2 separate regions of the Homo sapiens genome follow, and region 2 is linked to region 1. The links come from fine-mapping of genetic effects on gene expression. Tissue or cell type: whole blood. Region 1 holds a variant in brackets; the other region holds the start of a gene. All regions are shown on one strand. Distances are between the middles of the regions.

Region 1 (8,180 bases):
ACAAGAGGCAGTTTGTGGCTGAGCCTGAATAAAAAAGTAGAGGTGTTTAATTGTGGGAGGCCCTTGGCAGTGCTGGAAGGAGCAAGAAACAGGAAGAAAAAGAGGTGAGTCTCAGGCTGAGGGCCGGGGACTGGAGGGAGACACCAGCTTTCTCTGTGCCGCCCCATTCAGGCCCAGAACTTCACACAGTGTGAGATTTTTTAATTTGAACTTGGTCTTCGAAGCCATACAAAGGGCAATCTCTCAAGGTGGGGGGATAGAACATATTTCAAGTTTGTTAGATTGATTTATTCCTTTTAAATATCTGGATCTCTGGTATGTGAGCCTCCATCTGTCATCTCAATTTAGCCATGAAATTTTAGGGATGATCCTGTTTTAGGGATGAAATGTTTTTGGAGGTGGGTTTTGAGGACTGGGAAGGATTTAGATGGGTCAGAATGGCAGGAGATAACAGGACAAAAGGCTTGGACATGGGCATCTGCAGACACCGGCAGGCAGAGTAGGGGAAGAAAGCCATTGTGGCTGCATACCTTCTATTTGCCAGCTTTTGGGGATGGCATGGGGTACGTAGCCTTCTCAGCCTGGGCTCCACCTCCCAGGCATCGCCTCTGCCCGTGACGCCTGTCACTGTGCTCCAGACGTCCCAGGCCATTTGGTTCCCATGCACGCCCCGCCTTCTCGAACCTCCTGCTTGCACATGTGGTCTCTGCCCTGCTCCCCCTGCCCGCCCTCCTGCATCCCCTCCCAGCCCCTCTGCCTACTCACCTCCTACCTGTCCCTGAGACCTCCCTAAGACATCACCTTCTCTGGAAGTCTCTCCTAAGGGCCCACACCAGCTTGGATCCCATAACACTGAGAGGTGACAGCGTGCTGGCAGTCCTCACAGCCCTAGCTCGCTCTTGGCGCCTCCGCTGCCTGGGCTCCCACTTTGGCGGCACTTGAGGAGCCCTTCAGCCCACCGCTGCACTGTGGGAGCCCCTTTCTGGGCTGGCCAAAGCCGGAGCCCGCTCCCGCAGCTTGCAGGGAGGTGTGGAGGGAGAGGCGCGAGCGGGAACCCGGGCTGCGGGCGGCGCTTGCGGGCCAGCTGGAGTTCCAAGTGGGCGTGGGCTTGGCGGGCCCTGCACTGGGGGCAGCCGGCCCTGCCGGCCCGGGCAATGAGGGGCTTAGCACCCGGGCCAGCGGCTGCGGAGGGTGTACTGGGTCCCCCAGAAGTGCCAGCCCACCAGCGCTGCAGCTCGATTTCTCGCCGGGCCTTAGCTGCCTTCCTGCGGGGCAGGGCTTGGGGACCTGCAGCCCGCCATGCCTGAGCCTCCCACCCCCTCCATGGGCCTCTGTGCGGCCCGAGCCTCCCCGATGAGCGCCACCCCTGCTCCACGGCGCCAGTCCCATGACCACCCAAGGGCTGAGGAGTGCGGGCGCACGGCGCGGGAATGGCAGGCAGCTCCACCTGCAGCCCCAGTGGGGGATCCACTGGGTGAAGCCAGCTGGGCTCCTGAGTCTGGTGGGGACGTGGAGAACCTTTATGTCTAGCTAAGGGATTGTAAATACACCAATCGGCACTCTGTATCTAGCTCAAGGTTTGTAAACACCAATCAGCACCCTGTGTCTAGCTCAGGGTTTGTGACTGCACCAATCGACACTCTGCATCTAGCTACTCTGGTGGGGACTTGGAGAACCTTTGTGTGGACACTGTATCTAGCTAATCTGGTGGGGACGTGGAGAACCTTTGTGTCTAGCTGAGGGATGGTAAACGCACCAATCAGTGCCCTGTCAAAACAGACCACTGGGCTCTACCAATCAGCAGGATGTGGGTGGGGCCAGATAAGAGAATAAAAGCAGGCTGCCCGAGCCAGCAGTGGCAACCGTCTCGGGTCCGCTTCCACACTGTGGAAGCTTTGTTGTTTCGCTCTTTGCAATAAATCCTGCTGCTGCTCACTCTTTGGGTCCACACTGCCTTTATGAGCTGTGACACTCATGGCGAAGGTCTGCAGCTTCACTCCTGAAGCCAGCGAGACCACGAGCCCACCAGGAGGAACGAACAACTCCAGACGCACCGCCTTTAGAGCTGTAACACTCACTGCGAAGGTCTGCAGCTTCACTCCTGAGCCAGCGAGAGCACCAACCCAACAGAAAGAAGAAACTCCAAACACATCCGAACATCAGAAGGAAAAAACTCCAGACGCGCCACCTTAAGAGCTGTAACACTCACCGCGAGGGTCCACGGCTTCATTCTTGAAGTCAGTGACACCAAGAACCCACCAATTGCGGACACACCACCACCCATAATGCCACCTTGAAACCACTTTGTCTCCGTCAGGCCCTAAGCTTCTTGGACAAGCGGAGAGAAGTTCAATGTGGGAACAGCAGGGAGGGCCAAACAGTTTTGTTTCATTTTGGTTTACTTTTAACCCTTATTACAATCCTTATAACTAGTAAGTAGAAAAAGAATAAGAAAATGGTTAACAGCAGTGGTTTGACATAATAGGAAAAGCACTGTGCTTTAAAAAAAAAAAAAATTTCGGCCGGCCATGGTGGCTCACACCTGTAATCCCAGCAATTTGGGAGGCCGAGGTGGGCAGATCATGAGGTCAGGAATTCGAGACCAGCCTGACTAACATGGCAAAACCCTGTTTTTACTAAAAATACAAAAATTAGCCAGGCATGCTGGCACATACCTGTAATCTCAGCTACTCAGTAGGCTGAGGCAGGAGAATCACTTGAACCCAGGAGGCAGAGGTTGCAGTGAGCCAAGGTCACGCCACTGCACTCCAGCCTGGGCAACAGAGTGAGACTCTGTCTCAAAAAAATAAATAAATAGGCTGGGCACGGTGGTTCACGCCCATAATCCCAGCACTTTGGGAGGCCAAGGCAGGCGGATCACGAGGTCAGGAGTTTGAGACCAGCCTGGTCAATATGGTGAAACCCCATCTCTACTTTAAAAATATACAAAAATTAGCTGGGCATGGTGGCACGCGCCTGTAGTCCCAGCTACTCAGGAGGCTGAGGCAGGAGAATCACTTGAACCCAGAAGGCAGAGGTTGTAGTAAGCCAAGATCATGCCACTGCACTCCAGCCTGGGCGACAGAGTGAGACTCTGTCTCTAAAAAATAAAAAATAAAAAATAAATAAAATAAATAGGCCAGGCGCGGTGGCTCACGCCTGTAATCCCAGCACTTTGGGAGGCCGAGGTGGGTGGATCACGAGGTCAGGAGTACAAGACCAGCCTGGGCAAGATGGTGAAACCCTGTCTCTACTAAAAATACAAAAAAATTAGCCAGGCGTGGTGACCAGTGCCTGTTATCCCAGCTATTTTGGAGGCTGGGGCAGAGAATTGCTTGAACCCGGTAGGCGGAGGTTGCAGTGAGCCGAGTTTGTGCCACTGCACTCCAGCCTGGGCAACAGAGCAAGACTCCATCTCAAAAAAATAAATAAAATAAAATAAATAAATAAATTTCGGCCAGGCGCAGTGGCTCATGCCTATAATCCCAGCACTTTGGGAGGCCGAGGTGTGCAGATCATGAGGTCAGGAGTTTGAGACCAGCCTGGCCAACATGATGAAACACTGACTCTACTAAAACTACAAAAAATTAGCCAGGCGTGGTGGTGTGTGCCT[G/A]TAATCTCAGCTACCTGGGAGGCTGGAGCAGGACAATCACTTGAACCCAGGAGGCGGAGGTTGCAGTGAACAGAGATCGTGCCATTGCACTCCAGCCTGGGCAACAGAGCAAGACTCCATCTCAAAAAAAAAAAAATGCTCAGTGCATGTGTTTGTGTGCCTGTGTGTATATGCCCACACGTGCACACACAGAGGTGGAGTGGGGGTCCTCATTTATTCACCAGAGGCTTCTTTGGTAAAAGAAGAAGGCTGCGTCATCAGGGTTTTCAAGCCTTCAGAGTTCCCGAGGGCTCCCGCAGGGACAGCTCCCCCTGTATCCCCAATGAGTGGTCTTCTCCCTTCCCCCTACAACCATAGCAGCACTCTATATTTTGTCTACAAGTTGAGATTACCTATAAAATTCCATCCTGCATTTGCAAACCTGAACGAGAAAGGCTCCAAGTCACTGGTCTGGAGCTCTTACGTCCTGTCCAGGCCCCGGTTCCTGGGTTCTGTGGTTCTGTAAGAGGAAATGGCAGCTGGGGCGTGGAGGCCTGGGTACAGCTGAGTAGGGAGCACTCGTGTGGGGCTAAATGAATGCAGTTGAAGGATCTGGATCATCTGGGACCCTACATGTCTTCCTTCTTTGCCTCCTTTCCAGGGACGCACTCTCTGAGATATTTTCGCCTGGGCGTTTCGGATCCCATCCATGGGGTCCCTGAATTTATTTCGGTTGGGTACGTGGACTCGCACCCTATCACCACATATGACAGTGTCACTCGGCAGAAGGAGCCACGGGCCCCATGGATGGCAGAGAACCTCGCGCCTGATCACTGGGAGAGGTACACTCAGCTGCTGAGGGGCTGGCAGCAGATGTTCAAGGTGGAACTGAAGCGCCTACAGAGGCACTACAATCACTCAGGTGTGCATGCGGCAGAGACAGACGCTTCCCCCATCCCACCCCAACCCGCAGAGACCCCTGGGCTGGCCTCCAATAAGCGGATGCTGAATTGCACCTGCTGTAGCTTTGGCAAAGCCTGAGGAATCAGGTTGGTGGAGTTCAGGGCCTCCCATCTGCCTGTGCATCTTCTGGACTGTCCCTCTCTCCCCCAGGAGCACTCTGTCATTTGCCCCACCCACTCTTCCCCATCTCTGTATCCGTATCTGCATCCCATTTCCACTCAGGCTTCTGATATGCATCTCCTTTTCCATTCTAAATTTGCCCATTCTGCGTCTCACTTCCTGGTAGTCAGGCCTAGTGACTTGCTTATGAGTATCGACAGTAACTTTCCCAGGGGTATTTCTGGCTCCTGCATCTCTCTCCCTCCTCCACTGCAGTCAGAATAGCCACAAAGTTTATCAGTCATTCCCATTACAGGATAACTCCCCAAGGCGGGAATTAGCACACTCCTTTGACAGGCAGTAGGTACTTCACAGATACCTGCTGACAGGTGGGCTTCCATAAGGGGGACCTCCTGGGGACTCAGCGATGCCATGGCAGGCCTGGGGGGTGACATAATGTAGACCAAAGGATGCTTCCAGCCATGCCCCTGCTCCCAGCACTTGAGAGCCCACCTCTGTCTCTGTGTGGACCCCTCTGGGCTTCTGTGTGTGTTCCAGGGTCTCACACTTACCAGAGAATGATTGGCTGTGAGCTGCTGGAGGATGGAAGCACCACAGGATTTCTGCAGTATGCATATGACGGGCAGGATTTCCTGATCTTCAATAAAGACACCCTCTCCTGGCTGGCTGTAGATAATGTGGCTCACACCATCAAGCAGGCATGGGAGGCCAATCAGCATGAGTTGCTGTATCAAAAGAATTGGCTGGAAGAAGAATGTATTGCCTGGCTAAAGAGATTCCTGGAGTATGGGAAAGACACCCTACAAAGAACAGGTAAAGAGAAAGAGAAGGCCTCATTCCCACATTGCCTGAACAACTGTTTTTATACGTAACTCTTTTAATCTAGGTTATATCCACTGTATCCTGAAAGCCATCTCTTTAGTTGGCCTATTGTGATCTCATGGCTAGAGCCCCCACGAAAACTTTCCCTGGTTACTTTTGAGCAGCATCTTGACAAGATTTGACAGTTCCCCTTGTCTTGACAGAGTGGAGTACCTCCAAGGGCACCTTGTTTTTAGGGATCTATTGAGGCAAATTCTTCCATTCCGTCAATGATAAGCTGGGAAATTCTTTGGGAGATAGAGCAATTCTTACAAACTGTTTAGTTAACAAAGGGCTCACACACCACCAGTAGGAGTAAAAATCTGGATTTACCAAGACAAACAGAAGGTCTCTGCTTTACTAAAGGATTAATGAGGTTGGGCATGATGGCTCATGCCTGTAATCCTAGCACTTTGGGAGGCTGAGGCAGGAGGATTGCTTAAGGCCAGGAGTTTAAGACTGGCCTGGGTAACATTGTGAGACCCTGTCTCTATTAAAAAAAAAATTAGCTGAGCATGGTGGCACATGACTGTAGTCCCAGATACTCAGGAGGCTGAGGTGGGAGGATCTCTTGAGCCTGGAAGGTCAAGGCTGCAGTGAGCCATGATCATGATCAGCCTGGGTCACAGAGCAAGACCCTATTTAAAAAAAAAAAAAAGTATTAATGATAAGATTCCTTTCAGCAAAGAGCTCCTCTTATACCTTAAAGATATGATTCAGTTGGTCAACTTTTAGTTCATATAGAACTTTTCATGTATGGTCTTGTTATTCAAAATTAATCACACCTGTATGATGCTACAGGAAACTCCTAGATACAATGTGTGTGGGAAGAGTATGGGAAGCTCCCCTCTCCAGGCCTCTGTCTACATTCAGTGTCCTAATGGATTTTCAACCTTTTGGTCAAAACACACTCCTAAAAAAACAAACAAAAAAAAAAAAGAAAAGAAAAAACACATTCCTAGAAAAGGATCTTGGATTAATTTCTTACAGGCCCTATCAAAAAGCACAGTCCCTCCTAGTAGCATTTATTTTACTTTTAATGTTGGAAAGCCTTTTTCTACTACCAAATATCATGCCTCGGTAAAGAGACAAGGAAAGCATTGTTGGAGTGAAGGCTCTTCTCCGTATTGGGTTGGCCGATGATAAGGTGGGGGTCAGGAGGCAAGTCAGAGATGAGCAGGAAGCAGTCCCCCCCAGATAGTGCCTTTGGTCTCGGTATGGCTGTTTGACCCAATTTCAGCAAGAAACATTAAGGACAGGACTGTATGGAAAATTAAGAGTAGTCATGAGGAAGCAAGGTCACACGTGGGTACTTCTTTGGTGTCACTGCTGGAGCCCTTCTATGATATCAGTTTCTTCGAAGGCACAACCATGGCATGATCTACTACATATGTTTGTACCTGATGGCAGTCATCAAAATGCCAGCGCAAGTACACAAGGCAATTCGGAGCCAAAACTGAGTGGGGATGGCTGTGTTATTTACGTGCACTAAACACAGAAATGAGAACAAGGAGTTCTAATCTCCAATCTATTGCTGACTTACTTATTGGGAACAGTCACTTACACATTTTATGGGTCAGTTTTCCTTGACACATAAAGGTATTTCAAAGGTTACTAGTAAACAACCCCAGCACACTTTCCAAACAGTCAAAGCTGTATGACTTTCCCCCCTTAGAGGATGGAGCATGGGCCAACTCCACATTCTTCACTACCTAGCACCTTGCCATCATGGAAGGTATACGTAAATACGTTTGTTGTTGATGAACCTGAGTTCTGGGTCATTCTTAGCTTTAGAAGTTTCCTGCAATAAAGAAAAATTAGGAAAGCCAGTTGCCAAGTTCTAATATTATATGCTCAGTACATAAGGCACTTTGATTTAACTTTAGCTTCTTCTTCCTAGAGCCCCCACTGGTCAGAGTAAATCGCAAAGAAACTTTTCCAGGGGTTACAGCTCTCTTCTGCAAAGCTCATGGCTTTTACCCCCCAGAAATTTACATGACATGGATGAAAAACGGGGAAGAAATTGTCCAAGAAATTGATTATGGAGACATTCTTCCCAGTGGGGATGGAACCTATCAGGCGTGGGCATCAATTGAGCTTGATCCTCAGAGCAGCAACCTTTACTCCTGTCATGTGGAGCACTGCGGTGTCCACATGGTTCTTCAGGTCCCCCAGGGTAAGGACGGGGATCGTGGCTGTCTAGGGAGAGAGCCTGGAGAAAGGGGTGAGCAGGAAACCATGCTCGCTGCCAGGGAGGGGAGGATAGATCACTGCCTCACTCAGTGTGCCTTAGAATGGGTCTTTTAAATAAGTGGTTCTCACACTTTTTGGAACCAGGACGCCTTCATACTATTAAAAAATTATTGAGGACCCCAGAGAGCTTTTGCTGATGTGGGTTATATCTATTGCTATTTACTACATTACAAATTAAAAATTTAAAAATTAAACACGAATGGGTGCAGTGGCTCATGCCTGTAATCCCAGCACTTTGGGAGGCTGAGGCAGGTGGATCACTTGAGGTCAGGAGTTCGAGACCAGCCTGGCCAACATGGTGAAACCCCATCTCTACTAAAAATACAAAAATTAGCCAGGCATGGTGGCGCATGCCTGTAATCCCAGCTCCTGGAGGCTGAGGCAGGAGAAT
Region 2 (8,180 bases), 26 kb before region 1:
CCTGGGCGACAGAGTAAGACTCTGTCCCAAAAAAAAAAAAAAAAAAAAAAAAAAGAAAAGAAAAAGTGATAAAACCATATATAACGTATAATCCCAATTTTTAAAATGACCATATTATATATATAATATATATTTGTAATAAATATATAAATCCTGGCCCTTCTACGTACAAGCTTATAAAGTTGAAGTTTTTTACTAAGTTTCATTTTCCTTTTTGTGAAATGATGACAATAATAATACCTACTTCATAAGGATAAAAGAGCAATCCCTGTTGTGGGATTCTGTTCCGAACAGGACATTGACAATGTCAAAACCTCCCAAAAGGAGCTTCAAACTTCCAAGCACTAACCACTGCATGTATAAGTTACAACAGCTTTCTAACTGGTCTCCTTTTTCATCTTTCCTCACACTGATGCATCCAACACTACCACCAAATCAATATTCCTAAAATCCTAATTTCATGTCATTTCCTTGCTTTAAAAATCTGTAATGGCCTCAAGATGAGATTCTCCTTAGGCCAACATAACTTGACCCTATTTTACCTGCACTGGGAAGTATTGACAGTAGTGTGAAATCAGGTTGTTCTAATTTGAAGCCTGAGTACACCACTTATTAGCTGTGTGACCCTAGGCAAGTAAGTTAACCCCTCTAACACTTCCTCAGCTTCTCATCTCTAAAATGTGGCTAGTATTCATCATATGGGTGTTTTTACAGAGTGAAAATTCATATAAAGTGCTTACTTAGCACTTTACATGTATGCCTGGCACTGGAGATGCATCCTTTAAATGTGAGCTGTTACTACTTCCCTAAACTGTCTACTCCACCTGGGCTGCTCTTCCAGATCATTTCTAACACACATTGCCCAACTTAGGCCTTTGGCTGGTGGTGTTCTCACCCATGAGGCACCATTCCATCACAATCACCACCATCAACAAAGAGTATGTGTTCAACATTTACACTATATATTCAAGGTGTAGGCTGGAAATACAGAGGAAAAAAAAAAAAAAAACAGTCCCAAACCTCAGAGCTCATAGTCTAATAATGAAAGAGAGACAGAGGAAGAGGTCCAATAATTAGGGGTGACAAAGGAAGCACTTCCTGGAGGCAAGGGAGATGCTTACACTGACTCCAGAAAGCTGCGTGGGTGAATCAGGCAGTGTGGGTGCATGTAGAGTAAGAGCATCCAGTACAGCAATCACAGTCACTGTATTGAGTCTGGCACTGCTGGAGTACTAAGGCTAAGGGAGAGCAGAGGCTAGATCAGTGAGGTCAGGAAGTGTTGGCACTTTATTCTGCAGGCCAGCAGCAGCCACTGAATAATATTAAGTAGGGTACACCTGTCTAGGACTCTAGAAAAGCTTACACTGTGCTGTCCAACACGGAAGCCACATACAACTACTGACTGGAAATGTGGCTAGTGTGACAGAAATTAAATTTTAATTAATGTAAACTTGGTAACTGATAGCAATTCAGTTATCAAAAACCTTTTATGTATGTTTGGAACAATTAAAGAGTATGTAGGCCGGGCGCGGTGGCTCACGCCTGTAATCACAGCACTTTGGGAGGCCGAGACAGGTGGATCACAAGGTCAGGAGATCGAGACCATCCTGGCTAACATGGTGAAACCCCGTCTCTACTAAAAAATACAAAAAATTAGCCGGGCGTGGTGGCGGGTGCCCTGCCCATAGTCCTAAAAATACAAAAATTAGCCAGGTGAGGTGGTACACACCTATAGTCCCAGCTACTCAGGAGGCTGAGGTGCAAGAATCGCTTGAACCTGGGAGGCAGAGGTTGCAGTGAGCCGTGATTGCACCACTGCACTCCAGTCTGGGCAACAGAACAAGACTCTGTCTCAAAAAAAAAAAATGTATTTAATGAACTTTAAATACAGATCAATTATTTCTGATGAAAATTTAATGTCCAAATTTAAATGTGCAGTAAGTGTAAAATATGTATCAGATTTAGAAGACTTAGTACAAAAGTAAAATATCTCATCAATAATCTTTAATCACATGTTGAATATTTTGAATGTATTAGAGATTACATTAGAATTAATTTCACCTGTTCCTTTATATTTTACTGCGGCTACTAGAAAATGTAAAATGACATACATGGCTGGCATTATACTTCTATTGGACAGCAATGATCCAATAGATCCCAGGACAGCTGAAAGAGGAAATGAGACCAGAAGCAGGAAGAACAATTAAAAAGACTCTGATAAGCATCCAGGTAAGAGAGACAGGCCTGATTATCTAAATTCTGCCCATCTTCAAAACCTAATTCAAGATACACTACTGCCTCCAAAAGCTCTCCTAATCCTAACAATTCCCAAGGAGTTACCTTTCTCTGAACTCCTGAGGCACTTATCTGTAGCATTCACTTCAACACTCATTCATTTGCCACCTGTCATTTCTATTTAATTTTGGGGTAATTTGTTTCTCAGATTAGACCAGAAGCTCCTAGGCTAAGGGCCATAATTTAGGCACCTTTAATTTTTGCATGCTGTGTAATGCATTTTTGATACTTTTAATAAACACAGGTACATGACTCCCCAAAAATCTGGATACACCTTCATGGGTGACTTTACCTTTCCACAGCAGAAGGAACTGAGAATCTCTTTTCCTTCAAGAACCTTAAAGATAGGAGCTAAAATGATGTAAAAATCAATCAAAACTCCCTCCAAGCCAATGTTCCGATAAAGTAGTGATATTTAATCAGTGAGCAAGCATTAGTAGACTGTATAGGATACCATCAAGAAAAAAAAATGCCAAGACAGAAGAATTTAGGCTTTTGACAAATTCCATAAAAAGTCAAACAAAAAATTTCTGATCATCTCTGATCTCTACCGCCAGAGATAACCTTTGCCAACCTAAGCATTAAGAACTTTCAATCAAGGAAAAAACATCTATTTTAAAAATTAACCCCTAAATCAATCCTTCTAATAAATATCACATTTTCTAGGTAGGGATACACATATTACCAGTAAATTTACAACTCAGCATTTTCCCATCTAAATTAGAGTAAGGTGAAGAAAAAAAACTTTCCAGGGAAATATTAAGAAGTAGTATAAATGTATTTTACTGCATAATCGATAAAGTATTTCACCTAAAATACCATTTAAATTTTCTACAACACTTGACTATACAACGGCCAGCTTGCACCACTACAGAAATAGGAAGCTAGCAGCAACTAGTAAAAAGCAAGGGACATTCTGTGGTGATCAGTACTGACCTGGGAACTTTGCAGTTTTCAGATTTTTCATGTTTGACATTTAAAACAGAAAACTGACAAGTTTCTAATAAGAAACTAAAAGTTACATCAGAATTGATCTTCTTGCATGTGTTTAATGGCTACGAAGTGGATATTACAAAGTGCAGTTGAAGACTCTATCTCCAAAGAAACAATCGAGCAATCAAAGATGAGCTAGGATAGCTTGTAAGGGAACAGAAGGCAGTCCTTTCTATTCTGAAAGGCAGAAGAAATAGGAGAAACCTGTCAAACAACCTGGATGAAATCAAGGAGTTAACAAGCAACACTCATTTCCTTTAGCACTGTGAGAAAATTCCGGTTGCTAATAGAAAGCTGAGGAAAGTTTGGTTTGGCTTGTTTCATTTTGTTTTCCTTCCAAATCATCACTGAGTATGAACGACTGCTTTCCTCTCCTCACATTACTCAGTAAAAACTCCCCCATTGAATTGTCTTCCGGTGCCCTGCTCCCCAGCCTCCCAGAACGGCCCCCGCCCCCGCCTCCCTCCCAGCAAACGTGCTCAGACGCCTCTGGGCTTGTTGTGGTCTCGCCAGTCTGCGGACAAGCGCTCCAAACTCAATGGACAATGGAGCTCACCCCCGTCAACGCGAACTACAAAGCTCAGGAGGGCCATTTCCCTTTTCCTGCCCAGATGCTGTTTTCGCTCCTTCGAAGCAAGATCCCATGCTCGACTAGACGGCCAGTGTGCGCCAGGACCCGCGTGTCTCCTTCCCCACCTGCAGAGCTGCTGAGCCCCTCGGCCCCCAAATAAATTGTACCGCAGCACACAGGCCAAAAAGGGCCCCCCACCACCAGGGGCTTGGCTGGGGACAGTGGCTTCACGGTCCAGGTAGGGATGGAGGGAACGTCTCTTGACGCTTGGTCATGGCCCTCAAGACTAAGCCGTCTCCACTGTTCCCCCTCCCCAGCTCCAACTTGCCTCCCCTCCCCCCACTGCGAGAAGACCTAGGAGGTGCGGGCAGGCAGCACCGCCACCTCTTCCTCCGGTGGAGCGCTCGGCCGACACTCACCCTTTCACCACAAAGAAGGGGTCCTCCATGGACATGGCGTCCCGGCCCCGGCCGCCTTCACCTCCTCCGCGCACAGGGCGCCCGTGCCTCCCGGTCTCCCTCCGCCCACCCCGCCTGTTCCCGCAGCTGCCCGCGCCTTAGTCTGGGTGAAGCCGAGCAGCGGGCACGCGCACAGGCCAGGTGCACAGGACGGCCGCTGGTCCAGCACTCGCTCAGCACCACTGGCCGAATCCCGGACTCGGGCGCCGGCCCCCTCGGCAGCCTCCAGTCCCGGCTCCTCCCGAAGCGTCGGAGGGCCTGACCCCACCCCCGGGACCCTCGGCCGCGGCCAATCACGAACGCCGCCTGAAACACGACTTCCGCACCCCGCTCACGTGACCAGGGCATATATCTCTCTCTCTCTCTCTCTCTCCTCTCTCTCCTCTCTCTCCTCTCTCTCCTCTCTCTCCTCTCTCTCCTCTCTCTCCTCTCTCTCTCTCTCTCTCTCTCTCTCTCTCTCTCTCTCTCCCCCCCCCCCCAGTGGGCGGGGCTTACGCCTGCGTCCCTCGGCCCTGGAGGCGGAGCCCTCGGGGCGGTGGAGGTGGGCGGGCTTCTACAGCCCTCTCCTCAAGCTTGAGGGTGAGGAGTGGCTTGTTCCCTCAGAACTAGGCAGTCGGCTTTTCAGGATAAGCTGTAGTTGTACCTGATTTGCAAAATCCTCTTACCTTTCCTCTACTTTTAATACTTAATTTTGACAGTATGTAATTTATAAATCTATCTGGTCCTCGACTTAAAATGAAGCATAGTATCTGATTATAATGTTACACAGATCCTTTAAGTAGGTCTTGCTTTGTGTTGGACAGTGTGCTAAAGGTTGTGTATGCATCATCTCAGTATCCTTTGGGGGAAAGTATTATTCCCCCCTCCCCCTTTTTGGGGGGCAGGGTCTCTCTCTGTCACCCTGGCTGGAGTGTAGTGGCACAATCACAGCTCACTGCACCCTTGACCTCCTGGGCTCAAGCGATCCTCCGGCCTCAGCCTCCCGAGTAGCTGGGACTACAGGTGAGCGCCACCACGCCCGGCTAATTTTTAAATTTTTTATAGAGATGGGGCTCTCAGTATATTTCCTAGGCTGGCCTTGAACACCTGAGCTCACATGATCCTCCTGCCTCTGCCTCCCAAAGTGGTGGGATTATGGGCGTGAGCCACCACACCATCCATTTTTCTCATTTTGTAGATAAGAAAATAAGTTCAGAGAGGCTTGAAGACTTCCTGTAGTCACACAGCCTGGACAGGGCAGAACTGCAGATTCTGTGCACTTTCCACCAGATGGGGTGTACTTTCTGTTGCTGTACATTCTGCAAATAACCATGTAAAGTAATTTTTCATACAGCATATGGTGCTTCCCAGGAGAGCACACCTTCGAGGAATAAAGAAGGGGCCAGGTATGACAACTTCCTCTCACTGTGGTTCAAGAGCTATTCGAGAAAACATTTTGCCCAGAACCATTAACCAACTCATATGCTAGATATGCTATGAAATTTGTGGATGGGGATTGTGGACTTTGATTGCTGAAAATCATTGAGCACTTACTGTGTGTGTGTGTCAGGCAGGATGTTAAGTGTTATCTCAGTTGCTCTTACAATGTGATAATTACTGCTATCATGCCCATTTTATAAATGAGAAATCTGAGACTCGGAGGTTAAGTGACTTGCCCAAGGTCACCAGTCTGGAGCTGGCACAGTCCTTGGAGCAACACAAACCCCGTTTAAACCTTGGCTCTATCATTCAGTTCCTCATCTATAAAACATAAATAATAATAGCTAGTTCATGGGTTGTTGTGATGGTTAAATAAAAATGTGTGTAAACCTCAAGATCCCAAAGGACTAAGTTACTGAAGTCAGGAAAACCAGTAAGGACGCTGCTAAAGTCATGTGGCCTGAAGGGATGAGGTCCAGACCAGGATGACAGCGATTGAGAACAGAGAAGGAGTGAATCTGACAGATGTTTCAAAAGGAAAACAAGACTAAACACCTAGACATGATGAGGGGCTGAATGGGTTTCAGGAGGGGAGAGAAGAGAGGGGTGAAAGCCAAAATCCCTGGAGGAGCGAATGATGGAAGGCAGATGTGGGGAAAGGAAGCAGTGTCCAATACTAGTGATTGCTAATGTTTATTGGGAGAGAACTGTTTAATTTACTTAGCTGGGGAGGTGAAAACGTGTCATCGTTCATTCATTCAACAAGCACATGTAAATTGAGGGGTAGGTGAGCATGGTGTTGAAGACCATCCTTGGAGTCTGATTGCTTGAGTTCTGCTGCTTCCTGACTGTTGCATCTCAGGCAAGCCGCTTCATCTCTCACTATCCTCAACTGTGAAATAGACACCGTAATAACAGCTTCCTTATAGAGTGTCATGAGGTGATGTGTGAAAAGTGCTTAAAACAGTGCCTGACACATGTTGTGCTCCTACTGTGTGCTAAGCACTGAGACACAGGCATGAACAAGGCTTGGTTCTTGCCTTCAAGGAACTGTCAGACTGGTGGGAGAGACAGACTGGTGGGAGAGACACACAGTGAGAGAAGGGCACAGGTTGCCATAGAAACACAGCGACAAGATACCAGTATATTTGTGTGTTTTCGGGGCTGGGGCAGGGGGTTCCTAAGCAGTGACTAGAAGCAGCCAGGAGAAGGGGGCCATGTTGCTGGAGTAGAAGGAAAAGGATGGGGGCAGCAGGAGCTAAGCCTGGAGGTGGACAGGGTCAGATTATCAGGGCCCTTGTTTGTAATGTTCAGAATAGTGGACGCTTCCTATGGACAGTTCCCCATGGGGACTGAGGGAATTGACAGGGTCAGATTGGCATTTGAGACAGATGCTTCAGTGGCTAGGAGGTTATGGTCCAGAGGAGGGATGAGGGTATCCTGAGCTGGGCTTGTGACAACTAAGGTGGAGAAGAGTGATGCATTTGAGACATACTTTAGAGGCAAAGTTAGTATACTTGGTGACTGATTGGTTCAGGGTATGGGGGAATTGATGAAAGAAGAGGGAGGAAGGCTTCTGGGGTTGTAAATGGGTAGTGTTGGTTCCAACCATCAAGAAAGAGAACACAAGAGGAGGATTTGATTTAGGGTGAATGTAAATTAGCTGTTAGCATGTCATTTATCCCCACCAAACAGTAAACTCCTGGAGGGACAGGATACTATGTTAATGTTATTATCACCTAAGTGCCTGACACGGCCTCTTATTATCTGTTCCATGAATTTCTTAATTGGACCACATATGACAGGCCAGAGTTTTATAAGTAGTAATAGAAGATAGAGGACAGAGGCTTGGGTTCCCATAATTAGGGGATTAGAAAAAGCACCAACAATGGAGATAGTGGAGTGTCAAGATATAAAATGTGTGTATGTGTGTGTGTGTGTGTAGGTGTTCCTTTCTTTAATGTGTCACCCTCCTTTACCCTCTCTCAAACTAGACCTTGGCCTCCACTGCCCACAAGGAAAGGGAAGCTATGGCTAAAATGCAAGGAGAAACAAAGGAGGTTCTTTCTTTCTTTCTTTTTTTTTTTTTTCATTTAATAGGACCCACGTCCTGGCATAAACAATAGGTTGGGAAGAATACTCAGCAAAAACCCATCTCTTCCCACACCCCCACCCCTACCCCACCCCCAACCCAAAAGAATAATTTAAATTTCTCAGGGAATAAAAAATCAAAACAGTGGTTGTCTTGGGGGACAGAGTTTGACTGGGAAGGGAAACTTTCTTGGGTACTAGAAATGCTCTGTATCTTGACGGAGTGTGTGTTACATGAGAGTATCATTTGTCAGAATTCCTCAAACCGAAACTCTTAATTGGACTTAACTTCTGTTCATTTTTCTGGGGGAGGTTGACATGCCAACTCTGAGCTTTCTGTAGAGTTCTGAGTG

What was found. PIP is the estimated chance that this variant, and not a neighbour inherited with it, causes the effect.
Region 2: it holds the start of STX6, and the variant in region 1 is fine-mapped to the expression of STX6 in whole blood (TOPMed, PIP above 0.99).

What each region holds. Positions count from the first base shown.
Region 1 is chr1:181,044,799-181,052,978 of GRCh38, forward strand. It overlaps MR1 (major histocompatibility complex, class I-related), which reads left to right. Exons shown (of 6, transcript NM_001385161.1): 2 at 4,254-4,514; 3 at 5,213-5,488; 4 at 7,437-7,712. Among named protein-coding and RNA genes, the nearest start is that of MR1, 15 kb to the left of the region's middle. RefSeq lists enhancers at 1-44, 1,363-1,865 and a silencer at 96-245. The variant G/A (reference allele first, on the strand shown) is at 3,614.
Region 2 is chr1:181,018,361-181,026,540 of GRCh38, forward strand. STX6 (syntaxin 6) reads right to left here and starts at 4,510. Exons shown (of 8, transcript NM_005819.6): 1 at 4,279-4,510. The coding sequence starts at 4,313. RefSeq lists an enhancer at 4,250-5,033 and silencers at 4,442-4,571, 4,692-4,791.